4 separate regions of the Homo sapiens genome follow, and regions 1, 2 and 4 are each reported to be linked to region 3. The links are microRNA targets in miRTarBase. Many come from high-throughput screens and were not tested one by one. Region 3 holds a microRNA gene; each other region holds the end of a gene's coding sequence.
What was found. The annotated mature microRNA hsa-miR-30b-5p reads UGUAAACAUCCUACACUCAGCU and lies in region 3 at 2,417-2,438, shown strand. An mRNA with a match to its seed (bases 2 to 7 or 8) in the 3' UTR can be bound and repressed. Matches are read on the target gene's strand: a 7mer-m8 pairs with bases 2 to 8, a 7mer-A1 pairs with bases 2 to 7 and ends in A, and an 8mer does both.

Region 1: the mRNA of CAND1 is a reported target of hsa-miR-30b-5p. Seed matches in the 3' UTR shown: 7mer-A1 at 6,121-6,127, 7mer-A1 at 5,397-5,403 and 7mer-m8 at 4,453-4,459.
Region 2: the mRNA of RUBCNL is a reported target of hsa-miR-30b-5p. Seed matches in the 3' UTR shown: 8mer at 827-834.
Region 4: miRTarBase lists KLF4 as a target of hsa-miR-30b-5p. The part of its 3' UTR that is shown has no 7-base or 8-base seed match.

What each region holds. Positions count from the first base shown.
Region 1 is chr12:67,312,435-67,319,560 of GRCh38, reverse strand. It overlaps CAND1 (cullin associated and neddylation dissociated 1), which reads right to left. Exons shown (of 15, transcript NM_018448.5): 15 at 1-6,955. The coding sequence ends at 6,731. Among named protein-coding and RNA genes, the nearest start is that of CAND1, 47 kb to the right of the region's middle.
Region 2 is chr13:46,336,884-46,344,009 of GRCh38, reverse strand. RUBCNL (rubicon like autophagy enhancer) reads left to right here. Exons shown (of 15, transcript NM_025113.5): 15 at 513-7,126. The coding sequence ends at 625. Among named protein-coding and RNA genes, the nearest start is that of LINC00563, 43 kb to the right of the region's middle. RefSeq lists an enhancer at 4,819-4,898.
Region 3 is chr8:134,795,882-134,803,007 of GRCh38, reverse strand. MIR30B (microRNA 30b) reads left to right here and starts at 2,401; the gene lies at 2,401-2,488. It also overlaps a transcript of ZFAT not described here.
Region 4 is chr9:107,479,965-107,487,090 of GRCh38, forward strand. It overlaps KLF4 (KLF transcription factor 4), which reads right to left. Exons shown (of 5, transcript NM_004235.6): 4 at 7,064-7,126; 5 at 4,888-5,962. The coding sequence ends at 5,787. Among named protein-coding and RNA genes, the nearest start is that of KLF4, 6.2 kb to the right of the region's middle.

The sequences.
Region 1 (7,126 bases), not on the chromosome of region 3:
GGTGCTTTTAAAAGGAATTTGACAATATTACGTGCCTGAAAATGGAGTCAGGTTCCAAACATGGGAGTTGGCCCTTGGATTATGCCCTCTTCATTACTTGTCCAGGGAAGACTTCCTGGAGTCCTTGACCTAACCTACAAGATGAAAAGCAGCCAGCTAAGTAAAACAAAAGAGAAGTCAAGTCATTCCAGGCAAAAGGCATAACTTGACCTTGAGCAAACTTGAGAAGGCAAGGGAAATATTTTATAGTTGTCAGAAGAAAAAGTTAGTCCTAGTTGTGAGAGATGCTGAGGCTGGTGGGGCAGGCAGTAACCAGATCTAGTTTGTACTTATCCTATGGGCAAAAGAGAGACAGTGAAGGATGTAGTGCAAAGATGAAATGGTCAGGACCATTGTTTTGCAGCTGTGTAGAGGAAGGACTGGGAATTAATGCCTTCTGGGTATTTTAATGTGGTGGTTTCCAAGGTGTGGCCTTGGGGAACAGCATTAGAACCTGGGAACGTCATAGAAATACAAATTACTGGTTTACTACAGCCTACTGAACCACAGCCTCTGGGTGTAGGGCCCAGCGATCTGTTTTAATAAGTCTTACAGGTGACTGTGATGCACACTCATTTGAAAACTATTCTTCTAAGAGCTCATTCCTCAAGACATTTCATCTCCTTTATGAATTGTTTCTGTCTCACTCATGTTGAATGGACCATACCCTCAATTATTAACCCCCAGTATCCCGTGTATACCTCTCATACAGCAGAATTTTATGGTGCTTCCTTATGTCAGTCTTCCCATGATAATCAGCAAGCTTCTTCATATCAAGTACAGTCTCAACAGCTTTTGTAGCCCTGGCAGCACCCTAAGCGCGTAATAAATTGGCTTGCTAAATGAATGAACACAAAAATAACGATTAGCAGGCATTTGCCGCAGTCCAGTCAATAGATAAGGAGGAAAAGAGGTCTTAAGCCAAAAGCATGAGAGATATTTAGGAAAGAGATATTTAGGAGATGGGCATGAGAGATATTTAGGAAATAAAAGGGACAGAATGCTAGTAAGAGTTAACAATTATATTACTTAGTATGTCCCAGGTACTGTTTTAAGTGCTTTATACAATGTTCCTATTTAATCCTCACAATAACCCTATAAGGTGCAAATATTTTAATTCCCATTTTATAGATAGGGAAAGTTGAGGTTAAATTATTTGCCCAAGTCTAACAGCTAACAGCCAGGATTCAAACTAATATGATATATGATGTCTATCTATCTGTAGAGTCCTTGTTTTTTTTGAGACAGGGTCTCGCTTTGTCACCCAGGCTGGAGTGCAGTGGTGCATGCAATCTTGGGTCACTGCAACCTCCACCTCCCAGGTTCAAGCAATTCCCCTGCCTCAGCCTCCCACACAGCTGGGACTACAGGCATGTGCCACCACGTCTAGCTAATTTCTTTGTGTTTTTTTAGCAAAGACGGGGTTTCGCCATGTTGGCCAGACTGGTCTCGAACTCTTGACCTCAAGCAATCCACCTGCCTTGGCCTCCCAGAGTCCTTGTTCTTTATCATATTCTGCCTCCAAACTCTTGCTAAGTGAGGCTTTTAGATTTCCAGTTTGAATGACTGGGTAAATGGGATGCCATCAGCAAAGAGACAGGAAAAACCAGGGCAAGATGATGACTTCAGCTTTAGATATGCTGTGTTTGAGATACCTTTATGAGATGTATAGCAGGTGGTTGGATATAATAGTCTGAAACAGGGGCATGGACTGGGCTAGATGTATAGATTAAGAAACTGGCTGGGGGACGTGGCTCACGCCTGTAATCCCAGCACTTTGGGAGGCCGAGGCGGGTGTATCACCTAAGATCAGGAGTTTGAAACCAGCCTGGCCAACATGGCAAAACTCCATCTCTACTAAAAATACAAAAATTAGCTGGGCATGGTGGCACACGCCTGTAATCACAGCTACTTGGGAGGCTGAGGCAGGAGAATAGCTAGAACCCGGGAGGCAGAGGTTGCAGTGAGCCGATATTGCGCCACTGCACTCCAGCCTGGGAGACAAAGCAAGACTCCATCAATCTCAAAAAAAAAAAAAAAAAAAAAAATTAAGAAAGAAAAAAAAAGAAAAAAGAAATCAACAACATGTGGCTGGGCAAGGAGGCACTTGCAATAATCTCAGCAGTTTAGGAGGCCAACACAGGATTGCTTGAGCCCAGGAGTTTGAGATCATCCTGGACAAGGTCATGAGACCCCATCTCCACAAGGAAATAAAAAAATTAGCTGGACGTGGTGGCACACACCTATACTCCCAGCTACTCGGGAGGCTGAGGTGGGAGAATCACTTGTGCCCAGGAAGCTGAGGTGCAGTAAACCATGTTCGTGCTATGTACTCCAGTCCAGGCAACAGAGTGAGACCTTGTCTTAAACACAAAAACAAACCTGTGAGGCCATTTGCACTTCAGTTTCCCTTAAATATTGTTCACTAGGTATTTCAGCCCACACGTCTTCTCATTATATGTAATCCTTATTCTTTTAGGGCCATCTCATCCATTCTTATGGTTGCATGTTGTTGATTTCTTTTTTCTTCTTTTTGGTAGAGACAGGGTCTCACTATGTTGCCTAGAGCTGGTCTCCAACTCCTGTCTTCAAGTGATCCCCCACCTTGGCCTCCCAAAGTGCTGAGATTACAGGCGTGAGCTGCCATCTGGCCCTGAAGTACAATTCTTTACTATTTTTTTGAGAGCATTCTAGACTAAAATCACTTAATATCCATCAACCATTACTTACTGGCAATAGCAAATTAATTCCAATACTTCCTAATCTGGAAACAATGTCACTTTACATAGCATAAGCTTTCTGTCTTCTAAGACCTCAGCAAAATAATTAAACTTGCTAAAATCACCACTAGAAAGTTATGAAGAGGACAGGGTATTAAGATTCCAAAACAAAATTAGGTATTTCTGTCTACTAAATATCATTCTGAAACCTGACACACTGGCATTATAGGGTCCAAAAAAGTAAAATTATATGCATTACTCACTTCAGTAGTTTTTGGATTCAGAGCTAACTTTCTAAGTTACAAAGAGCAAAAACATGTTGCTGAAAGATCTTGCCTGAAACTACAGCAAAGGTGTTTACAAAATCTTTTCTGATATTCATAGGAAAACAAGCAATTTACTGTATTGGAAAAGGAAAACATATGATTTCATTTTGCATTTCCTTTAAGAAAACAGCCTTATCTGATGAGATTTGGGTAGCCTGTAGCCAAATACTTCCACTGTGTTCCACTTTTGCAACCAAAATTATCAAATGAATTTTATTTAAATGGAAAAGTCAGTTAAAACCAGAATATCCTTTGTCCAATCAGTCAATAAACTATTACCATACTGTCAATTTTCCATTCCATAAACAAGATTTCAAAAACAGGTATGAATCTGGGGTAGCAGTGGTTTGAAAATTAGGATTCAATTTAAAACAGAGCTAGAATCCAAAATTTACTTGCTGAAATGTTTAAGGTCTTTAATTTCAAAACACTTACTAAGCATAATATATCCAGAGATTGGCAATTAATTTTAACAATTTAGGTCTTTAGTAAAATTAATGTGGGCAGAAAATGTTACTTCATTACAAAGTGTTACTATATACTTTGTCTTGTGACTAACTAGAGCTTACAGGAGTATAAACAAGTTAACTGAATTTTTCAGTGGCTGAGGATTTTGTATACTTCCTCATTTTGAACTTCAATCATGACTATATAATCATATTCATACATCTGAGACTGAACTAGATATAAAGATATCACAACACCCACTAGAACTGGTTAATTAGATATGCCCATTATTTCTTCACTATTTACCGAAGAAAAGTATGAAGAAAAAAAGACTAATTTGGTTTAATTATGGTTACATAAAAATTATGTAAATATTCAAACATTTGATGAAATCATCATACTCCAACCATAAAGAATTGTAATTCCTAATGGTTAAGCAGCTTTCAGATATCATTAATAAAATACATGACTGTCATTAAAAAAATTATCATTCAGTGCTATTGATTTTATAAATAACCTTTTAGGTTAGGCCCTGCCATACCAAATTTCCTTCCTGCCTTTTTTTTTTTTTTTTTTTTGAGACAGACTCTCGCTCTGTTGCCCAGGCCAGAGTGCAGTGGCGTGATCTCGGCTCACTGCCAGCTCCGCCTCCTGGGTTCACGCCATTCTCCTGCCTCAGCTGTAGCAGCTAGGACTACAGGCGTCTGCCACCACGCCCAGCTAATTTTTTGTATTTTCAGTAGAGATGGGTTTTCACAGTGTTAGCCAGGATAGTCTCGATCTCCTGACCTCGTGATCCGCCCGCCTCGGCCTCCCAAAGTGCTGGGATTACAGGCGTAAGCCACTGCGTCCAGCCCTCTGCCTTCTTTTAAAATAAATCAGGTAGACCTAAACTAACTTAAATGTTCTCATGAAAATCAGTAAACAGCTTGGTTTTGTATTAACTTTTAGATCTCCTCAGGAACCTACATGTGACAAATTCCTAAGTTTAACACCTTAATATTACTAGTAAGTAGCATGAGTGGTAGACTATGTCTGGACTCCACATCCTGCCACTTCCATTCCAGTATCTGGACCACATCACCACTAGGAGTATGGAGTTAATCATCAGTATGACACAGCATTGAAATTCTAAGCACTGCTGTTACTAATTTTGTTAATGTATGCATATAAACAGGTATATAAACACTAAAGCCATAAAAGAGCAGTATCTATTTCTTTAGTACTAAAAGAATTTCAACTGTTAGAAAAATGAATTGGCTTAAGAGACAAAAACAAAGCAAAACAAAACAAAACATGCATCTTGAAAGTTAAAAACAAACAAACTGAAGAAAAAGCCAGTTGAAGTATTTGGATTTAACTTTACCCAACTAAGACATTCACACAACATATGCATGTCAGTCTCCTGTTCAGTCCTAGAGCCTGCAGTATTGTAATTTATTGTAAAACCATGTAACCAAATACTTAAATATATCCACAACATCTATACCACAGAAATGCATAGTACATAATATACTAACATCTCAAAATAAACTTCTATTACAGTTTTATGCAAATTATGGTAAAAGATTATCACCTGCCACATTTTGAAATGGCACCAACTTCAACATCAATGCACTAGTCAAAATCCTTACTAGAAGTGATGTCTTCTGCATTATCATCTGAACATTCAAAATCAAGCTGTTAATCTAATAACCACAGTATGTTATCATTTAAAATCACTGTATATTTGGATGTTAAAGCAGGTAGTAATACAGCAGGAAAAGTGTTTCTAATTCACAGTTTCAAAACTAAAGGGTGCAGTTTTCAAATATCTGATTGCTTAAATTGGTCACTCAATTTAACAACTGCCTCCTTCAATACATGTAAACTATGTTTGCACAGCATTAGGAGATGTCTTTTATTTCAGAATTAGTTCTTACTGTTACAGGAGCACCACAAATTTTAAGGAAGAGGCTACAGTGTGAAATGAGCTCACTGAAGGATATGTTAAATAAAATTTTAACTACAATATAAGGTACTGCAAAAGCTTTGTTCCCCAGCACAGATCCCTTAATCAGGAAAAGTAGTGAACACTTACCCAATACAATATGTAAATTCGCTCTACAGGAGATGGGGAAAAACCTAACTCAACTAAAAGAAAATACTATTATTAGCTAACAAACCTGTGATAGCTGGCTTCAGAATTTTCCTAAAAATAAAATTCAAAAGCATACACAGTATTTATATCCTTTGATAAGGAATGTAGACATCCAAACGGAATGAAAGAAAAATCTGGTTTTAAGAATTTCTAAGTGGAATCACACACACACAAATGGGTAACTGAGAAAAACTAAATATTCAAAATTTAAGTAAGAAGATTTATAATAGAAAAAAGTGGCAAATTGTTACTGTGACTTGATTTTCTGAAAACATCTGCAAATTCACACTGGCATTAAGAAAACCCAAGTCTCAAAAATTCTCCTTTCTTTCTCTCCAGATAATGTGTTTTCTGTGCAAAAATAAATATCTGAAAATTGCACTAATACTTATTTTAACTTCTATATTATGAATAATCTGCACATGCTGCTTTACAGACGATACATATTTGTAAACTTACTCATGCAAAATTAGTGTGCGCAACAGGGATATTGTTAATTTTCATACTTAAAAATGATACCTTATTATCTTTTAAAAATTGCCAAACTCTCTGAAATGGTTAACAAATCTTATATGGATATTCTTGTCTGCCAGCTAAAAATCAATTTATGTTGCTGAAAACAAAAAGTTATACAAGAAAAAGAAACATGGTTTTTGTTTTGCAAGATTTTTGATTTTTAAATGAGAAAATTTATAAAAGAAAGAAATTCATGGTCACAAAATTTTAACATTTTAATCCTAAACATTACAGGGTAAATAGATACTGGACCCTATCTCCATACTCCATAAAATCCTAACTTTTAGTTTCCATTTCAAATGTTGCTGTAACCACTAAAACACTAGTGGTTTTACAACCTCTGGATTATGGAAATACACATTTCTGAAATAAATGCTACAAAAACAACAATGGAAGAAAGCCAAACAAACAGTCTCCATGAAGGAAAAAAAAGTGGAACATTTTGAAGCTTTTAGACACTTCTCTTTCCATGTCTTATGATTAACCTGTCAATTCAGTGCATTGTATGGTCATATGTAATGGTCCCCATGGTGAACAAACATCTAACTAGTGTCCATTGATTCCAAGTTAGTAGATGATGAATCTTTCTGGATACTTTCAAAGATAGCCGCCAGCTCAGGGTTAGAACTGATCTGTGACTGGAATTCACTCATCAGTGGACTCTTCTCTGCTTCTGGAATGGTTAGCAGTGCTGCTACTGCTCTCATGGCAGATCGCTTTAATTCATCTTGTTTTTCAAACTCCTGCTTTACTGAGTTTGCCTTTACCTGTAAGATGGAGTAAACTTAGATTACATGCTATAAAAGACAGCTCTTACATGAACAAAATTTAAGCACATAAGATCTTCCTGCTAAAAGCTACTCTCGTAGGTCCATAAGGCATATTACATTCTAAGAACAACTGTTTTTAAACTTATTTTTAAAGTAGCTGTCTCCTTT
Region 2 (7,126 bases), not on the chromosome of region 3:
CAGTGGAGCCCTCAGCTCATCTCACGGGGAGCTCTGGAGTTTGGTGGCCTTTCAGCATTGTTCCAAACTGGGGACAAATTGGGGCCGGCCTACTCACTATATAGTGATCAGTCATTGAATGCAGGCTGGTGCCAGGAAGGGGACAAAGCAGCTTTCTCGATGTAGGGCCATATCTAGAGAAACAATGTGGCTTCCCAAGAGTTATCAGCCACCACCTCTCTTGGCAGCTGGGGAAACGCCTGCCTCAGTGCTTGAGCAGATCCAGGGGGCACTGCAGTGTCCGTTACATCAGGCTCTCTGAGCCTCCTGTTCATGACCTGTTGGAAGAGTCCAACAGGTCTGCTGAAATGTGACCTGCTGAAACGTGCGTTTCAGCCTGGCTGGTTTCTTTTTAGAAGACTCTGGGCTCTGGATTCAGACCCCTCTCCCTCCCTAGGATGGAGACGAATGTCTGCAGAAATGTGAGAAAACAAGATAGACCGTTTGCTAACGGCTCTCTTCCTTGCTTGCAGCGTGCAGGGCTTGCTTTCACAAACAGTGCTTCCAGTCCTCCGAGTGCCCCCGGTGTGCGAGGATCACAGCGAGGAGAAAACTTCTGGAAAGTGTGGCCTCTGCAGCAACATGATGCCCCTGAGTACTGTGAAAAAGACTGTTCAACATGCCTTATGATAACACCGATTTGTGTCTATTATTGGTGACATTGTTTTAGATATTGGGTATTGTATATTAAGGAAAAAGATGGTCTATATTCTCTTTATTGCATATACTTAATGTTTCAAAAGAATGCAGATTCTGTGTTTAAGCACAGGGCTGATAGTTGTGGTTTTGTTTACAAATGTTCTGTTTTGGCTGCTATTGGTTTTTTAAAGAGGTTTTTTATACTTTTGTATTTGAATAGTTATGTTTCACTGATGCTGAGCCAGTTTGTATGTGTGTGCATATATGTGAACTGTAACTGACAAGATGAATTACTCAGTTTCTCTTTCTCTAAAGCTTGTTTGATGAAACTGGTTGGTCCTTTCAGTGAACAAAAATATGACCCCAAATCTGTTTGCTCTGGCTTTTATTTCTTCAGGAAGCAGACTTCCACTTAAATGCCATTTTGTGATTGTGTCAATCATACACATTTTATTTACTTCAGAGTTTGAATAGAGAGTACACATTTCTTCTGCAGATTTATTTCATGATGAGTTTGAGTTGCTTAGCAGGGCGTGTGGGTCCCGTTGAAGTGCAGTTTGAAGCAACTGCTTCTAGATGGCACTCTTTCAGGTGGCACAAATTGAACCTGTATTTGTCATCTCTGTTCCACACACTGCAATGTCAAGGGATGCAGAAGTGAGTAGAATTCCATCCCTGCCCTTGAGGATCTTGCTTTAACAGATGTAAAACTGAACATAAGGTATTTGCAGATTTAAACGAACTGGGGGAAATAATGAACAGTGTGATTCTAGTAATAACATTAAAATCATAGACATTGACTAATAAGGTTAAATGAATCACAAAACCTTTATGAATTTCTTTTTTCTAATAGTTCTTATATGTTTTCCTGAAACATGTGAGCCTATTCTTTTTTCTTCTACTTTCTATATACTTTCTCCCACTTGAGAAAGGGGCCTTGAGGCTGGGTCCCTTCATGGTATACCTTTAGACTGAACGGTTTGCAACCTAGGGCTTGGGCATTACATTCCCTGGGATTCACATGCCCTAACTAAACCTACCTTGATTTTCTCAGACAGCACAGGCAGGCAATAAAGCGTCACAGATTGTCCCCTAACCCCATCCAGCCATGTGTATGAGTGTGTTTTATTCAATGGGATAGTACTGAGCACATGAAAGAAATGAATGACTTCTGTCAATCTCTTTTCATTCAGTCTTCTCATTCTGTCAATTGTTTTCTCATCCGCAGTGCCTCTGCCAGAACTGTGCTCACATCCATTATTTAAGCCAGATCTTTTCTAAGTATTATAGAAGTGTAGAGGCACATAGAATAAATAAAACCAGACTTCAAACAATGTTTCATTCTTGCCCATTGCTCCTATTCCCTGTTAAGAATCAAGGGTAAGAGTGGTATGTTCACATTCCTTTCTGAGGCAGATGTCTATATCTCCATTTACAGGCAAGGAAACTGAGGCCTAGAGAAGAGAAATAACTTTCCTAGGTTCCCACAGGAAGTGCATGATGGAGCTGGGGTTGACATTCAAGTCCACCTGCCTCCAAAGCCCATGCTTAGGCCCTGCTTCTTTTGTGGTGTCTTTTCAAGACAAAGGAGTAAAAACAACCTTAACTGGTAAGTGTTGCTCCAACTTGCAGAAGTGGCATTGGGCAGAGTGTTTTCTCACATCAGTGTTGATTTAAGGCAGCTGCTATGGCTCAAGCATTGCTTGAAGGGCTCTGTGCTCAGGGTTTGTATGTTTGTAAGGCACTGATGAGCCTGTGTGTGTTACATATCTTTGATATTAAGGAAGAGTGCACAGCAGTTGCCAGGAAGTGATGCTTTTGATTTTCTATTTTGAGGAAGAATGAGGTCATTTAAATAACTGCAGTATGGGATTTGTCTGAGACTTTGTTCCTCTCCAATGTGATAATAGAGGCTTCTTCCCAGGAAGGCACCTGTTAGGGAAGTGATCTTCAGCCCACATGGAGCACCCCATAAGGAAGTAATTAGTTGTGGCATATATAGCTGTTTAATGGGTCTTCCTGATTGTGTGGGTTTTCTGTTCAACTCTTCCTTGGCTGCCGGAAAGAAGATGAATGCTTGGTCAGACCATTACCCACTGTGAGGCATCAGTTGCAGTGCTGTAAAGGTCAGTGATTCATTTTCTGCCTCTGCACTCTTCACATGGGCAATTCCAGTAGTGTGTCATTTACAGTCATGATTCTCAACTGCAGGGAGGAAGTTACACCATCTCAAGGCAGAGGCTATAGGATGAGGAGGAGCAAGCCATCCCAAAGATGTCTGGTGTGTTGACCTGGGTGAGAATTATTGGCCACAACTTCAGATTAGATCCCAAATATGCCACTTTCTACCTACCCATGGTGACTTGGTGCTCTAGTTTGGCTTGTTTGACTCCTGCAAACCTCATGGTGAAATTTGATCCCCAGTGTTGAAGGTAGGCCTAATAAGAGGTGTTTGGGTCATGCGGGTGGATCCCTCAAGAATAGCTTGGTGGCACCTTTGTGGTGATGAGTGAGTTCTCACTCTTAGTTCCCATGAGAGCTGGTTGTTATGAAGCCTGGCACCTCCCTGCCCTCTCTTTGCCTCCTCTGTTTCCATACAAGGGGAGTCTGCACACGCAGGCTCCCCTTCCCCTCCACCATGAGTGGAAGCAGCCACAAGTCCTAACCAGAAGCAGATATTGGTGCGATGCTTGTACAGCCCGCAGAACCATAAGCCAAATTAACCTCTTTTCTTTATAAATCACCCAGCCTCAGGTATTCCTTTATAGCAACACAAATAGACTCAGACACTGGGGAAGCCATTTAAATTATCTAAGCCTCTGTTTGTAAAATGAGGGATATGACTCTCTGCAGTTGAGATAAGGATTAGAAATGAAAATGAAGCACCCACTAAAAGGCCTGGTACAAGCAAGGGCAAATGGTAATAATGAGGTCTAGACAGATTACAAACTGAGTCATACCCCTTATTTTCTGTATCTCTGGGTAAGTTACTCCCTGGGTCTCAGTTTATAATCTGTAATACAAGGATTAGAACAATAGCTACTGTTGTGGGTTGAATTGTGTCCCATGAAAGAATATGTTAAAGGTCTATGCTGGTGTCTGTGCTGTGGCCTTTTGGGAAGTAGGGTCTTTGCAGAGGTGGTTAAGTTAGGATGAGGACATAGTGCATTAGGATGAGTTTTGATCTAGTGACTGGTGTCCTTATAAGAAAAGGGAAATTGAGAGAAGAGAGAAGATGCAGGGAAGAAAAAAAGCAGAGGTTGGGGTGATGCATCTACAAGCCAAGGAGCACCAAGAATTGCTGGCAGCCCCCAGAAGCCGGAGAGAGGCAGGGGGCAGATTCTTCCTCAGAGCCTTAAAAAAAAAACCCAACATGGCTGACCCCTTGATTTCAAACTTCTGACATTGAGAATTATGAGAGAATAAATTCCTGGGGTTTTTTTGTTTTGTTTTGTTTTTGTTTTTGTTTTTTTGAAATGGAGTCTTGCTCTGTCACCCAGGCTATAGTGCAGTGGTGCGATCTCAGCTCACTTCAACCTCCGCCACCTGGGTTCAAGTGATTTTCCTGTCTCACCCTCCCGAGTAGCTGGGATTGCAGGCGCACGCCACCAGGCCTGGATAATTTTTGTATTTTTAGTAGAGACGGGTTTTCACCATGTTGGCAAGGCTGGTCTCTAACCCCTGACCTCAGGTGATCTGCCTGCTTCGGCTTCCAAAAGTGCTGGGATTACAGGCCTGAGCCACTGCGCCTGACCCTGTTGTTTTAAACCACCCAGAGTGTGGTCATTTGTCTGAGACTTCGGAATTCAAACCTGCTGGAAGGAACGTGGTAGACATGTCAGGAAGGGGTTTGACATTCAGTTTCTGCCCCCAGGTCTGAGCCTGCATGGCTGGCTTAGCCACCGTCAGATGCTACCTGCAGGAAGCCTTCCTGAACTCATCGCCAAAGGAGGGTGAAGTGTGTCATTTTTAGAAGCGTGCTTCCTTAAAACAAGCATTTAAGGATCTCTGTCTTTAAATAATTTCTCAACTGGTATGGGAAGGAAAACCGTAGTTCCCCTTTTTCACTTCACTAGAAACTAAAACAATACTTTTATGAGTAATGCTGAGGTAGCAGGCTGCAGACACAATTGGGAAGCTTCAGCACAAACATGAGAAATCGAGAACCTTTGCATCCTCGCATATCTGGGCAGCTCTCCAAGCCAAGGGGACTGAGGATTGAAGAGCTTAACCACATAGGTTAAGCAAATTGTGTATTTTTCCTTGCACTTTTTTTTTTTTTTTTGAGACAGGGTCTCGCTCTGTCGCCCAGGCTGGAGTGCAGTTGGCGTGATCTCAGTTCACTGCAGCCTCTGCTTCCCGGTTCAAGCGATTTTCCTGCCTCAGCTTCCCTAGTAGCTGGGACCACAGGCATGTGCCACCATGCCCAGCTAATTTTTTTCTGTTTTTGGTAGAGACGGGGTTTCGCCATGTTGGCCAGGCTGGTCTCAGAAGTGATCTACCCGCCTCGGCCTCCCAAAGTGCTTGGATTACAGGTGTGAGCCACCGCGCCCAGCCCTTCCTTGAACATTTTCTGGCCTCTGCTTGTGCTTCCAGGCTTCTTTCTCCCCAGGGCTGCCCCCTCTTTTCTAGTCCTGCCGTGTTCCTGCCTCCATGGTCTTGTTCTTCTTGCATCCCTTGCCTGGGATCAGGACTGCCCTTTCATCCTGGAAAGAGGCCCTGCTCTGGCCTTCCTCGGGCTACGTACATCCCCATTGGTGAGGAGACAAAGGGCAAGCGCACCCAAAGCCCCCACCCCTCCTGTTAGATCAAATGGAGCCCCAGACAGAATCCCCTGCCCTGTGGTCTCAACCCCACTTTTAGGGCTGCTCAGGTCTTTCCCCTGGTCCAGCCTCCTGAAAGTGAACTGCGCTGCTAAGACCAAGAGGCAGCCAAGGGGCAGCTGCTTGTAGGATGGAGCCAAAGTGGGAAGAGAGAGGGGCAGGGGTTGGCCCAATGCTAGCTATACCTGAGCCACCATGCTCCAGAGCAGAGCAGTGAGGAGTCAAAGATTTCAAAATTCAAACCTGCTTTCTCGGGTCCTGATGAAGGGATATTCACCATGGTAGGAAGATAAAACATATTTCAAATTTTAAATACTTGGATATATGGCATGTGGACCTGTATTTGTACTCTTGCATGGGCTCTGCAGATGGGAGTGGTGGGCGCTTCCCCTTTTCATCTCCCTCCCGATCTTGCCCATTCTTCAGCGTACTGCACGTGCACACACATGCTCCCTTCTCCTTACACTCTGATATCTGCATTTACCTCATTATTCTACTGGGGACAGCTCTCTGAACTTTTGGCAGCCTTTGATCCTTTCTATCTGCCCTTGAAAGTCTCTTGGAAGCTATGAGAGAGACTTTATTCTCCCTTTGCTCCTGCAGCCCCTGAAGGTCCACATTCCTGAGGGCCCTACCCAGCTCCCTGAGTGATTGTTTGAAATAGAACTACTCAGGAGTGCGGTGCCTGCATTGGACTTTTTACAAGCAAGAATAAACCTTTATTTTGTTCAGTTCCTGAGATTTTTGTGGGGCTGGTTCCTACAGTGTAACCCACCCTACTCTGACTAACATAAGATGTCCTGATACCTGTTGTCCAGGGGATGAGTACTGAGGGAACAGGTTTGTCACTGTCGTAGTCTGTTTAGGCTGCTATAATAAAATACCTTACGCTAGGTGGATAATAAACAACAGAAACTTACTGCTAACAGTTCTGGAGGCTAGGAAGTCCAAGATCAAGACAACAGCAGATTTGATGTCTATTGAGGGACCACTTCCTGGTTCATAGATGGCACTATCTCACTGTATCCTTACATGGTAGAAAGGAGAGAGAGCGGACCAGGCACGGTGGCTCACACTTGTAATCCCAGCACTCCCAAAGTTGAGATATATGCCTCAGGCTGAGACAGGCATATCACGAGGTCAGGAGATTGAGACCATCCTGGCCAACATGGTGAAACCCAGTCTTTACTAAAAATACAAAAATTAGGTGTGGTCGCAAGTGCCTGTAATCCCAGCTACTCGGGAGGCTGAGGCAGAAGAATCGCTTGAACCAGGGAGTTGAAGGTTGCGGTGAGCTGAGATCACGCCACTGTACTCCAGCCTGACAACAGAGTGAGACTTGGTCCCCCCTCCCTGCCCCCAAAAAAAGAAAAAGGAAAAGAGAGAGAGAGAGAACCCCCTGGGGTCTGTTTTACAAGGGCACTAATTCCCTTTGTGAGGGCCTCACCCTCATGACCTAATCACCACCTAAAGGCTCCACCTCCTAATACTGTCACAATTGGGGGTTAGGTCTTCAACACATGACTTTTGAGGAGATATAAATATTCAGTCCATAACAGTCATGCAGACATCAAAAACTATTCTACTCCTCTGAGTTATCCATATTATCTAGTATTCCTTACATT
Region 3 (7,126 bases):
GGATGCCCTTGCTTCAGTATAGTATAATACATAGGTACAGCCTTTTTTAGTAGTTTTCAGATGGCTTCTTTATGTTTTTATATTGAAGAACCACTAACTTCCCATTGGCCTATAAGGTTAGCAATTGATTATTTATAGCAAATGGCTTGAAATGTTAGATCATCAGTATTTGTCAATAAGCCTGTAATAACTTGTTTCCCTAGCCCTTAACTTAGTGTTGAAGAAAAAAATTGTGGTATTCATTGATAGGACTTAGAAAGCACAGAAATTACTTATTATTTAAGATTTGTTCTACCAATTGATATTTAAAGTAAAACATTTTTAGTTACTGAACACCATTCTGTAAATGACAGTATTTTATCCTGAGTATATGGTCTGAAATGACTTAGGGACAACTTTTTAAAGCAAATAACTAATTACAAAATTGGGTCTTCCAATTTATTTCAAATTAGATGCTTTTGTACAAATATTCTTGGTTAGAAATAGTCATATAAATACACTGTTGGACTTGTTCTCATTGATCTCCACACCTCAGTTCCTTCTACATGAGTCATGGGCTTGAGGTTACCCAGAAATGGACTGTGAACCTATAAACCCCAGCATGCATGTGGTATTGCGTCGAGCATGTTCTGTGATTCCCTTCTACTCTTGTTACAGCTTTATTCATTGGATCAATGTGCATTATTTGCTGTGTGTGCTCAGGTAATATTTTTGTTTCTTTTTTTTAGTTTGAATATCAGTTTGGGCTTAGTTACTTTTTAAAATAAGGCTGTTTCAGATAGTCTCTGCCACACTTTGCCTAGCCTGGTTAATTGTGGGTGGACCCATGCTACATGTTTTGGCATTGCCTTTTTCTTATCTGTACCATATTACAAACTTCCTAGTAATTTGACATTCACTGCTGTCTTTGCTTTAGCTTTCCAACAGGTTTGGTGAAACAGTCCATTGCTGTTCAATATCAGCTTGCATCAGAATTACTTGGAGGGCTTATTGATTAAAACACAGATTGCTGGGCCCTGCAAAAAAAGTTTCTGATTCAGTAGGTCTGGGGTGGAACATAAGAATGTGCTTTTCCCCCCACAGTTCCCAAGTACTGCTGATGCTGCTCCTCTAGGCCCATGCTTTCAGAATCACAGAGCTCATCTTACATTCTTTTCCTGCTAGATATTATGCCCAATTAATACATGAAGTAAAACAGAAAAATCCTTAACTTAAAAACATGTATTAATCCAGAAGTTTGATTATAAAAAGGTTTGTTGAAAATGTGAGACCATTTTTTCTCCCAGAGAAAAAGTATATTAATTGTCTAGCTGGGAGGGGCCTATTTGAATGTGTTTTCAGAGAAAAGCAGAAGAAAAAAATACGGTTGTAATAGAAGTAGTTAAAACAGAAAAGCAGTATGGTTGTAGAGTGGGGTGGCGGGGAGGTATATGTGTATTTAATCTTGAGAACCAATGCTTTTGGAAAACAGCCCGAAGGGACAAGAGACTAGGTAGAGACTGGCGAGGTTCCTGAAAGTCCTGGGTTACCTGTGAAATGCCAAAGATTTTTAAAGTTTGCTGGCAGTGGTTATTATATGTAGTTTTACTTCCAAATTTGAAGATTTCCTCTTCTTTGATGCAAGTGTGTTGGTAGGACCACTGATAATAGTTAGTGGAGATATTTGTGGGAATATATTTTTAATCAGAAAGAATGCAAAAAGAGGGGGAGACATTTCTTTGAGACACCTTAATGACACTGGGAACAGTAGAAGGTGGAAAGAGATCAGAGTGTGGGAAAGATGTGCCTGAGATGAAATTATCTGAATTCTGAATGTGGGGGAGAAGATGAGGAGAGGGTTGAGGGGGAGGAGAGATGACTAAGCTCCTCACAGTGTTTCATTAACTGTCTTTTACCTAAAGGAGGAATCTTCTTAATGAAGATTGGTTGATGCATCATACTGGTCATCAAGTAAGTTCTTATAAATGCAAGTTTGATTGTTTTGAAGGGAAGGATATAGGAAGGCTGGATAATCAGCTACATTTAGATATGGAACACTACAGGATGTCGGCATTTATTGTTGTAAATTCCTTTGGTGAAAAACGTTATCACTTGTTTGTGACTAGCCTGGGCAATATAGTGAGACCTTGTCTCTAAAAAAAATTTTATTAATAAGAAAAATTAGCCGGGCATAGTAGCGTGCCTGTAGTGCCCCCCACTGCCCTGGACACGCCCCCACTTCCAAAAAAACAAACACCCAACTCACTTCTGCCTTTTCCTTGGATTCTACACTTTCTCTCAGGATATCTTTCCGATTGAGTCTTGCCTCATTTATGTGAATGCTGTGCCTGTTCTTTTTTTCAACAGAGTCTTACGTAAAGAACCGTACAAACTTAGTAAAGAGTTTAAGTCCTGCTTTAAACCAAGTTTCAGTTCATGTAAACATCCTACACTCAGCTGTAATACATGGATTGGCTGGGAGGTGGATGTTTACTTCAGCTGACTTGGAATGTCAACCAATTAACATTGATAAAAGATTTGGCAAGAATAGTATACAGAGGCTTGAATTTTTAATGTAATTAATGTAATTAAAGGTTTGTTGGAAATGTGAGACCATTTTGTTCTCCCAGAGAAAAAGTGTGTTAATTGTCTAGCTGGCAGGGATCTACTTGAATATGTTTGCAGAGAAAAGCAGAAGAAAGCATGGTTGCAGTAGGAGTAGTTAAAACAGAAAAACAGTATGCTTATAGAGGAAAAATTACTCTAAATTTATTAAAATTCCTTTAAATTTGTTACTCAATTTAAATTTTTATTGTATCTTTTCAATTTTGCTATAGCACTAACATGACATAAGGCTCTGGGTATTGGGACAAAAGAATGCCCTTGTTTGGTAGTTGGGGTCGGGTTTGTAGTATTGCAGTGTGCTTTAACAAGCATGGGCTTTGACATCAGACATTTGTTGCCATCTGGACTCCACAAGTGAATTTGCTACGGGATTTGGAGGAGGGAAAGGCACTGTTTCCATACCTCAGTGGTTTTCTCATCTGTAAAATAAGTATGTGATTGCATGGATTGACTTACATGATGAATATAAAGTTGTTCATTAGTACAGTACCTGTCATATTAAGTACTCAATAAATGCTAGTTATTATTAATGCTGTGTTGTAGGTGTTCAGTAAATAGTTGCCATAATGCTTAAAGCAGACATAACTTGTTTTTATTTTTGCAATAAAGATGATGCCAACTTTTTGGTTTAATGGAAATGCTTTGAATCTTTGATATTGTTGTAATATAGTGGCAAAGAATTTTGAATCCCAGCTTCTGGAGCTCATATCTTGATTCTGCGAGTTACTTCGCTATGTTACTTTGGGGGAAGTTATTAATCTCTCTGTGCCTCAGTTTCCTCAGTCGACTAAATTGAAATTATAATAGCACCTACCTGATAGGATTGTTGAGACTAAATGAGGTAACAATTTAAAAATAAGCTAATACCTGATAATTAGTTCTATATATGTACTGATTGGTCTAAACGTTATTTCCATTTTCATGTCTTTACTTAAAATACTGAAAATTAATTTTTTATAGCTTTGTTTTTCAGTTCCATGAAATCAGCCTGCCTTTTCTTTTTTTGGTGATACATCCACATTCTGTATAGGTGAAAAGCAAAACAAACAAGTATAAAACGAAAATTATGTAAGAAGTACACACATCCTAGCAGCTTGGCAAGTGTCTGTATGCTCTTGCCTGTGCCTAAATCCAGAATTAGAATTCATGCTTGGTGCTCCTGTGGAAGATGTCTAAATGTTATGAGAAATACATGATTAAATAAAAATGTGAAATGAAAGCATGGAGACTTGTTGAAGGTGAGTGCTGTTTTTCTAATTATATATTTTATTTGTTTAATGAATAATTTGTTAATTTTCTTTGTCATTACGAGAGAGCTGTTTTATTCTGTACTTAGGTGCATAGCATACTATGTTTTAGTGAGCTCCACATGTTAATTTGAAACTTGCCAAATTTTTACATTATTTTATAATTTATAGTACTTTGAGAAACATATTGCAATGCATTACAAAGCATATAATGTAAAGGTAGTTTTATGAAGTGTTTTTCTCCCAAATTAAGCATATTTGGGAATTGCCCATCAATTTGTTTTTGAACCTCAGTGCATAAAATATAGAATTTTTCTTTCATATGCTAGATGTGAAAAATACTCAGCATATGCATGTGGTTTAGGCTACAAAATAGCCTGTAGGTTAAATTCCTAATTCTAGTGTTTAATTCATTGCCTTTTTTCTTCTTGTTTAATGGCCATATGTTTATATCTTTATATTACATACATTCCTGATTATGTAATAAGGTCTTTGATCATGTGGGCTATCAGATTTGCCTCACTTTGTCTCTTAGAAGAAGCTATACATGAAACTATGTTGTACTTAAGTGAAAATTTGAGTATTTTTCTTGTTTGAATTAATGCAGTGAAACATTCTACTTACAGTTAGCTGTCTCCCACCCTTACAGGAAGGTACATGCCTTCATTTTTTAAAACACTGTATATTTATTAGAATTGTTACAGAATTTTAGTAAATATATTCTAATCACATATTTTCTGATTAATGTGTGCTTATCAGTTTTAAATGTTATGAAATCTGGATATATGTTAAAATGTCTCAGTTTTCCCCTCTTGTTTACCATATTGCCATTTGGTATTAATAGATAACATAATGTAAAATTGGATGTCTTTGATAATTTTGGGATATGTTCTGAAATTAAACTTGAACTTTTTTCTGTGAATTTTGAAGATTTGGTATCTTATAATTATTTGGTGAGCATTTGGCATGAATTATTTAGCTTCTCCCCTGTTTATGATTTATTTCTCTTGTCATCGATTTCCAATAGGAAAATGTTATGGTTCTAAATGTCTCCTGTAGACTTCAGTAATTGAAAAATGTCAGTCAAGATGGGGGGAATCTGTAATATATAATAGAGTTTATCTTTTAGTTATGTTCATTTCCACTTTTTTTAATGTGTTTTTTTTTTAGTAAATGTCAAAAGTGTTACTCAGTGCAACATATTATGCAATATTATAATCAACTAACCTCTTCATTGATAATGACTTCATATTGAGAGGTTTTTTAAATCTAGAAATATTCTTGTTTTAAATTCCAGGTTAAAATGTAAAGGTATTTTTATTTTTTTAATTTTAATTCTTCTCAAAGCTACTAGTACATTATAAAACAACAATTTCACATTTAGAATTTTTATATGTATATAAATTAGGATTATTTTTTAATATTAGCCTTAACTTTCTTTAACTTTTATGAAAAACAACTAGTCCCAAGGGTATTTTTACTATTTAATATACATTATTCCTGTGATTCAAAATCTTAGCAGTAGAACCTGTTGAGCTACTTAACTTTCTGTCTTGGGACTATCCAGGTGCAGTTATAACTGGTTTCAAAGTTGTGACCTTTTCCTTGCTTGTTTCAAAATCATTCCTTAAAAAATGTTCAGTATTTTTCTTTTGTCAAAAAATAAAAACAGGATTTGTGGGTTGTTCTGTTTTTTAAAATTAGTTTGAGAAACTTCCTTTGCCACTTGTTTTCTGTGCAAATGTTGTAAGAGCTCAAATTCCCTGGGGGTAGGGAGGACTTTTATAAGGTTTTTTTGGTTGAAGGGTATAAAAGGCACTTAAAAGGTATACAGTTACTTTTATTTCGATATCCCAGTCATTTTGACATTATGATAAGCTTTCCCCACTTTATAGGTTATCTGAAAATTTGGTGGGGGGCGGGTATTTTATTTATACTTAATATAACAAAATTATTTTCCTATGTGTAGTCAATAGCACATACAAAAAATTATCTCCTGTTTGTAGTCAGTAGCACAGTCAGTATTCACCAAAATACTGAGTTATTTTTCAAGTAAAGGTATAAGTATGAATGAGAAACAGTTTGTGGGTTGGGTATTGTCAGTCCTTCTTTTTCAGATAACTTTCTAAATGGTCATTCAATCTGTAATCTTAAACTTTTTTAATGTTATAAATTCTTCAAATCAGTATTTGTATTAAATGCAGTGACCAGACTATGTCACTGATACAATGTCATGATTAGATGTGCAGAAGACTATGTTACATGGATGATAAATGAACTTTTAACATATAGAAATTAATATCAGATTAAACTAAAACATTAAGCAAAGTTAATACATGCTTGCATACATATATATATTTATTTATTAATGATATGTGGAGAATCTTTGTGCTTCATAGTCACTAGACCTAAAGTAGAAGCAGTTGTCAAGAATGTCCAACTGCTATTCATCTTTGTGGCCAAAGTAAATTTCAGATTTTTTTTTTGTAATGGTTTTCTTTAGTCTCTTTATTAACCCATCATCATGACAAGTCTGTCAAGTGACACATGTGAAAAGCAGATGTCCTTTCTTATTCCTGGTGCTTCCTAAGGAGGCAGTGCAATGCAGGAGAAGGAACATTATTAGAGATAAAGGAAAAAACCAGAAGTGCTTTCTCCTCTCACATTCCACTCAACACTTCTCTCACCAAATGTGTGTGGGGATTTCTCTCCACCAACAACCAGCAGTTCTTTACTGCAGATTCTCCAGTGGATACCAGCCAGGTGTCCTCTAATTCAGTTCAATTCTGACATTATCTACTGGGAGATAGTGTCAGATCCCGCAAGTGGAGGGCTCAGTCCTACAAGACTACCCCTTACTTCAGATGTCAGTCACAAGCAGTTAGCGGTTTGTGATTCTGACCAACTGGCTAGAGGTCCCCCTCCTCAAGTGTGATTAATTTGCTAGAGCAGCTCACAGAATTCAGGGAAACACTTTATTTACATTTACCCATTTATTATAAAGGATATTATGAAGGATACACATGAACTGCCAGAAAGACAAGGAGCATAGGCAAGATACTGAGAAGGGTCACGGAGCTTCTGTGCCTTCTCCAGGTGCACCACCCTCTGGGAATAGTCAGTTCATGTGTTCAGCTGTCTCGAAGCTCATTCGAACCCTGTCCTTCTGAGTTTCTGTGGAGGCTTCATTACGTTAAGGTTCAGAAATCAATACCCCAAAATATGGGGCTTTGACATGCTGAATTAAAGAAGCAGCCTCAAGGCCTCTTGGCCTT
Region 4 (7,126 bases), not on the chromosome of region 3:
CTTGGCAACATAGGGAGACCCTGTCTTTACAAAAAACAAAAGCAGGCCCGGCACGGTGGCTCACGCCTGTAATCTCAACCCTTTGGGAGGCCGAGGCAGGTGGATTACTTGAGGTCAGGAATTCAAGAACAGCCTGGCCAACATGGTGAAACCCCATCTCTACTAATAATACCAAAAAAAAAAAAAAAAAAAAGAAAAATGTTGTGTTAGGTATCCTCAGGTGAGATGTCAAAGGGATTTCTAACTGTGAATTTACTTTTTGCTGTTATTAAATTGAATTTGTTTATTTCCTCCTTTCCTTTAAGAACAAGTGGAGGCCGCGCGTGGTGGCTCACACCTGTAATCCCAGCACTTTGGGGGACCGAGGCGGGAGGATCACTTGAGGTCAGGAGTTCGAGAACTGGCCAACATGGCGAAACCCCGTCTCTACTAAAAATGCAAAATTAGCCTGGCGTGTTGGTGCTTGCCTGTAGTCCCAGCTACTCTGGAGGCCGAGGCAGGAGAATGGCTTGAACCCAGGTGGCGGAGGGTTGCAGTGAGCAGAGATTGCGCCACAGCACTGCAGCCTGGGCGACAGAGCAACGTCTCAAAAAAAAAAAAAAAAAAAAAAGACCAAGTGGAGAAAGACATTTGGGCGAATGATTGCAACATGCTGACTCATCTAGGGTGTCGAGAAGACCGAAGCAATTTAAAAAAGTATATTATATCAAGGGCACCGTGGAAAACAATTAAAAAGATGGGCTCCAGATGCACATGACTCCAGAGAAGCAGTTTGACTAATATTTCAACCCCATGCACCCGTTCCTCCCCAGCTAAGTTAACTGGCTGTGGTAGCCTTGATTCCAGCCTGAAAGATTTTTCTGTGTATGCTAACATTTTAGCAGTTGCTTTCCCTCTGTTTTGACTGTGACCAGGGGAGTAAAGCACCAGGTTCTTCAAATGGATTTAAGAATTTATTAGTTTTTCAGGAGATGGTGAGAAATTTACTCAAGATTCACCTTGCTGTTTAAGATAAAGTTTTCCAAAGGGAAACTTTCCAACTTTCATTTTAGTTTCATTTAATGTAGAAAAAAAGTTTTTATTTTCATGCAGTATTCTAACTTTAACAGTAGTTTGTGGTTTTCCTCCCCCCCACAGGTAGAACATTCCATGATATTTTTTACAGCATTCATTATATAGACTGGTCTTGGAGGTTTTATATGAAATATTATTGAATGACTCTGCGTGTGAACAATGAATGATAGTTTCATAAACAACCTTTAGGAGGCAGACATAGCTTCGGTTTAGCACTATAAAAACATGTCACTATACAATAGCCTGTAGAAGGTGCTACGAAAATACAAAGAAGTAAAACAAATAGATAAAACGCAATATGTAATAAAATCATGAATAAAATGATAAGAATAATACATAAAGTAAAAGGGTTTATGTGGGACTGGGTGGCATTCATGTCTGTATGAGAGACAGGGAAATAAATGGACAAGAGTGGGTGAGGGAGTATCTAGGCTACAAATCCATCTATGTATGTATGTTGTGTTGAATGGAGCTTCAGAAGCCAGAACATTTAATAGGACAGGTGGCTGATACAGGCTGCTAAATTTAGATACTCCCATTTGTTGAAGTACAACAGGTACCACCACTGCTTGTTTTAATATTTTCTCTGTGGACTTGCTTCTGTAGCATAAAGACTACCTCCCCTGGGCTTCCTTATATGGAAATAAATTATATGTAAAAATTATCAATCTCCAACTGTGAAGAGCATTTCATGTTTCTAAAAATTGTAACACTTTTTCATTGATTTTTTTTTTTTTGATAGAGATGAGGTCTTGCTATGTTTCCCAGGCTGCTCTCAAACTCTTGGCCTCAAGCAGTCCTCCCACCTCAACCTCACAAAGTGTTGGGATTACAGGTGTGAGCCACCACACCCGGCCTGGAACAATTTTTGGAAGAAAAAGAAATATTCCTCATGACCATCCTACTTGAGATAGTGAAAGCATCTGTTTTGTTTTACAAACTGAAACAGGATAGCAAGAGTCAAATACGTTTTCAGGCAGAAAGAATTTTATCAGAAGAGACATTTTGCTGGAAAATAGGTGGACTGAAAGTCTGTTGATGTGTGTAGGAAACATCATTGTTAATCCTTTGTGTGTGTAGGCACACAAGTTAAAATAAGAAACAGTAAAATTAAGTGTCATAAGGAAAATATAATAAGCAGGCATCACAATTATTAGGTACTCTTTATTGTATAGTGTATAAACGGCTCTGTAACACCATAATGACAGCACACCTAGGAGCCCACAGCTGATAGGTCCCAGAGTAAATAATTTAGCTATTGGCGTATGTCGAATAGTATTTTGTTTGGTCACAGTTTTGGGAAATCTTCCTCATTCATTTTAGATATTGAAGCTTTCTTTTTCAGGCTAGAAAAAGTTAATGTAGGCTGGGTGCTATGGCTCATGCCTGTAATCCCAGCACTTTGGGAGGCCGAGGCAGGAGGATTGCTTGAGCTCAGGAGTTCGAGACCAAACCTGGGCGACATAGTGAGACCCTGCCTCTATAAAATTTTTTAAAATTAAATTAAAAATTAAAAAAATAGGGGTTGGGGAGAGGGAGCATCAGTTAGAATAGCTAATGGATGCTGGGTTTAATATCTAGGTGCAACAAACCACCATGGCACATGTTTGCCTATGTAACAAACCTTCACATCCTGCACATGTACCCTGAACTTAAAAGCTGAAGAAAAAGAATTAAATAAAAATTAAGAATAAAGAAAAAGTTAACGTAGAGGAATGTTAATCTATGACATCAGAAAATTTTAAATAAATTTAAAATTCTTGATAGTTTATGCATGTTTCTTCTATTCGAGATAATATGCACTTAGCAAATATAAAGATGGCATTTTTCAGTCATTTTCATACACCGTGTGCCAAAAGATTCTGTATAACAGAGGTGGATTACAAAAGCAACCAACCACAATTTAACAGAAATTTAAGAAATTTAAACTTAAAGAAATCTAAACATAATTTACAGAATAATGTGTTCTAATGAGGGCTTTTTGTTTAAATAATTTTAATTGTTCTTTATATCTTCATTCTTATGAAAAAGTTTTTCAAACTTACTATAGCTGTTTTAGAATATTTGAAAACTTCAAAAAAGAAAATTTAGGCTGGGCACGGTGGCTTATGCCTGTAATCCCAGCACTTTGGGAGGCCTAGGTGGACGGATCACTTGAGGTCAGCAGTTCGAAACCAGCCTGGCCAACATGGTGAGACCCTGTCTCTACTGAATATACAAAAATTCGTCGGGTGTGGTGGTGGGCGCCTGTAATCCCAGCTACTCAGGAGGCTGAGGCAGGAGAATCGTTTGAACCTGTGAAGTGGAGATTGCAGTGAGCCGAGATCACACCACTGCACTCCAGCCTTGGTGACAAGCAAGAATCCATCTCAAAAAAAAAGAAAAGAAAATTAAAACTGAGAAAACCAGTATGAATATTTTGGCAGTTCCTTCTAGGGTTTTCTCTTAATTTCCTTTTGTTTCTCTCTCTCTCCTTCAAAGCACACATACACTTAAATGTACACAGTTGAATTGGTACTGTTGATAGTCTTATATCCTGCTTTTTCCACTTAACATTACTATGAGCATTTTTCCATGTCATTAAATATGCTTTGAATATGTTCTTGGCCACATAAAATTCCATCCTATTGATGCACCTGTTTTCTTTTAAGCAGAGACACATGCTATGCTTTCCAGTCATGGTGGACTCTCAAAAGCCAAAGAAAATACCTTGTGCTGATCTACCATAAGCCTCTTATAAACATCCATTTTTTATTTCATTTATTACATGTACCCATGGTACAAACGCACCTCTGGACACTAGATACAATCAATAGTTAATAAGCACTCTAAAAAAAATGCCAGTGAGCAGTGAGCTCTGTCCCCTTGATGATGTTTAGTCACCCACATCACTATTACAAGTATATAAGGTGTCAACAAGTGTCACAAATGCTTTTTCCATTTTGCGATAGCCCCAAATGAATTTCAATCTTTCAGGCACCCATCTCAAGAACTTCAGATTCTAACAGGGCAGTTTTGAGTTTTAATATTAAAACTTCTAATATAAACGCTACAAACTTACCATAACACCATCTTACTTTACACTTAGTTTTATGAATTTGAATAATTTTTAAATTATTTTATTTCAGTTTGTTTTCCCACCTTCAGTCAGGGGAACTGATTTAGCTTTAAAACAATCTGCCAGAAACTTTGGTTCTGACCTCTTTAAGGCTGTAACTAGTAGAAGTGATGTATCTTTAACACACACCAAGCATAAATGAACCCTTTAATCCTCAGGAGGGCACTGTGGAACTACGTTCTTAGGGTTGTCTGCTGTAGGAAGGTTCTTTTGTTACTCAGATGTGAGGGGTGCTGGGACAGGCCTCCACAGAAAACTTTTTTATTTTTATTTACTTTAAAAGACAAACCATAAAGATTTTTTTCAAATATGAAACTGAAATGTATATATTTCATAAATATTTTCATACTAAACTGAGCAAATTTAAGGATGATTAAGCTGTTTCTACTGGGAAAATCATAGGTAAGGAAACTGCTTTCACGTAGCTTTACGTACATTTGGAAAGAGCAAACCTGAACTGGGTTTTTAATCTTGTAATTTTTAAACGTACAATAATCAAGAGTTCTCAGCCCTATATTGATAGTATTTATGGTAAAACTAAATAGTTTTTTTTTAATAAAAAAAGGTATTTTAATTTGTTGACATAAAGTTGGCTTTTTTGTGCGTGCTTCTTACATGCCTTATTAACCCGGTGTGTTTAAACCAAACACTGTTCATATTTTTCCAGGAGGAAAACAAAACAATAAAAAACATTATTCAGATAAAATATTATAGGTTTATTTAAAACTTAATTCTCACCTTGAGTATGCAAAATACAAACTCCACAAAATGTTCATTTTACTTTGTAGTTTACAAATATACAAAATAGACGTTTGCTTAAATTTATATTACATATTTATTAAGGCAAGGAACTATATAGAAAAACACATTTGTTCTGCTTAAGGCATACTTGGGAATAAACCATTGTACAAATTATTGCACATCTGAAACCACAGTGCATAACAGACTGTCTGCATAAAAATGCTAAAGAAGTAAACCAGGTATATTACCTGACTTAGGTCATAAATGTTGATCGGAAGACAAATATAGATTTTCCTTGTCAAAGTATGCAGCAGTTTGAAAACTTTGGCTTCCTTGTTTGGTACCTTTAGAACCAAGACTCACCAAGCACCATCATTTAGGCTATTTAAACATGTTTTCTGTACCTGAATTTCTTCCTCTTCTTCTAACATCATAATAATGGCTTTTAGAAGGTAAAGAGAATACAAGGTGATCTTTTATGCTTATATTGCATCAATACACAATTCAAGGGAATTCTGGTCTTCCCTCCCCCAACTCACGGATATAATTTATACCCTGATATCCACAACTTCCAGTCACCCCCTTGGCATTTTGTAAGTCCAGGAATATTCAAGTCGGATTTAGAATTGGAATGATAGAAGATCCAGTCACAGACCCCATCTGTTCTTTGATTTTTGTCTTTTGGATTCCTCATTTTTCCTGATTATCCACTCACAAGATGACTCAGTTGGGAACTTGACCATGATTGTAGTGCTTTCTGGCTGGGCTCCTTCCCTCATCGGGAAGACAGTGTGAAAAGTAAAAAATACTGAATTCTCTTCTGGCAGTGTGGGTCATATCCACTGTCTGGGATTTAAAAATGCCTCTTCATGTGTAAGGCGAGGTGGTCCGACCTGGAAAATGCTCGGTCGCATTTTTGGCACTGGAACGGGCGGTGCCCCGTGTGTTTACGGTAGTGCCTGGTCAGTTCATCTGAGCGGGCGAATTTCCATCCACAGCCGTCCCAGTCACAGTGGTAAGGTTTCTCACCTGTAAAGGTAAAAGAAAAAAAAAATTGACGCTATTGCTATATCAAAGAATCGCCCCTTTTAAAAACTGAAGGCCAGATAGTAAACCAACTCTGACCCTATCCTAAAGAAATCCAGGAATGTCTTTATACCACTGAAGGGGTGTATTGAATTCCATATCATAAACAGAAATACATTCCGTGCTTAAGTATTTGGTCTTGTTTTTAGGGGGTCAGTTAAGCACACAACCACCACCTACACCTATACTAATGTTTCACCAAAAACACACAAACACCACCTAAACCTATACTAATGTTTCATTTGAGTCAAGGCATCTCAGTGGTGGAAATGAAATTTGGAAATTGTGATTGGTAGTGTGCCCAAACCATGCAATCTTATTCCTACTACGACTGGGGATAAAAAGCCACAGGTGGCTACTTTTTTTTTCTTTACCTTTACGTTACTGAATGCTGCACCTAAACGACTTTGGGTACCTACTTACATTGACATGGAAATGCTCTGCAGTGACAACCCTAAATCAGAATCTTCCCAGCAATTTTGACCATCATATTCTTGGAATTTAAAATAAAACCTTCTGCTTGTGGGGGAAAAAAAATAAAAATGTAAATCAAAACGAACAAAAAATAAAAAATAAAAAAGTAAGACCGAATTGTTACGACCAGAATTCAAAATAACAAAAAGGGAGGGTGAACCTGGGAAGGGAACATTAAAAAACGATTTTTTTAAAAAAGCCATCATGCTTTTGCATAGCAAAGTATAATTTCTTGATTATAATGCCAAGCTAGGAGAGGCCCACAGACCGCGGGGAATCTCCTGCCTTTTAAAAGCCTAACAAAATTGCACATTCAAACACAGATACCATCCATCAAGCAAAAGGCTCCTGGGCAGAAAAGTAGGCGCCGGTTTGCTGTTCTCTCCAGTGATCCCGGAGATCAAGGCGATAGACTGCCCTGGGAAGCCAAGGAGGCACTGAGGAGTGTCCACTGGTAGCCTATGGGGCTGGAAGCTAACCTGGGAAGTCAAGGAGGCACTGAGGAGTGTCCACTGGTAGCCTATGGGGCTGGAAGCTAACCCCCCTCCCTTCTGCAGTTTGTCCCCCTACCTGTGTGGGTTCGCAGGTGTGCCTTGAGATGGGAACTCTTTGTGTAGGTTTTGCCGCAGCCCG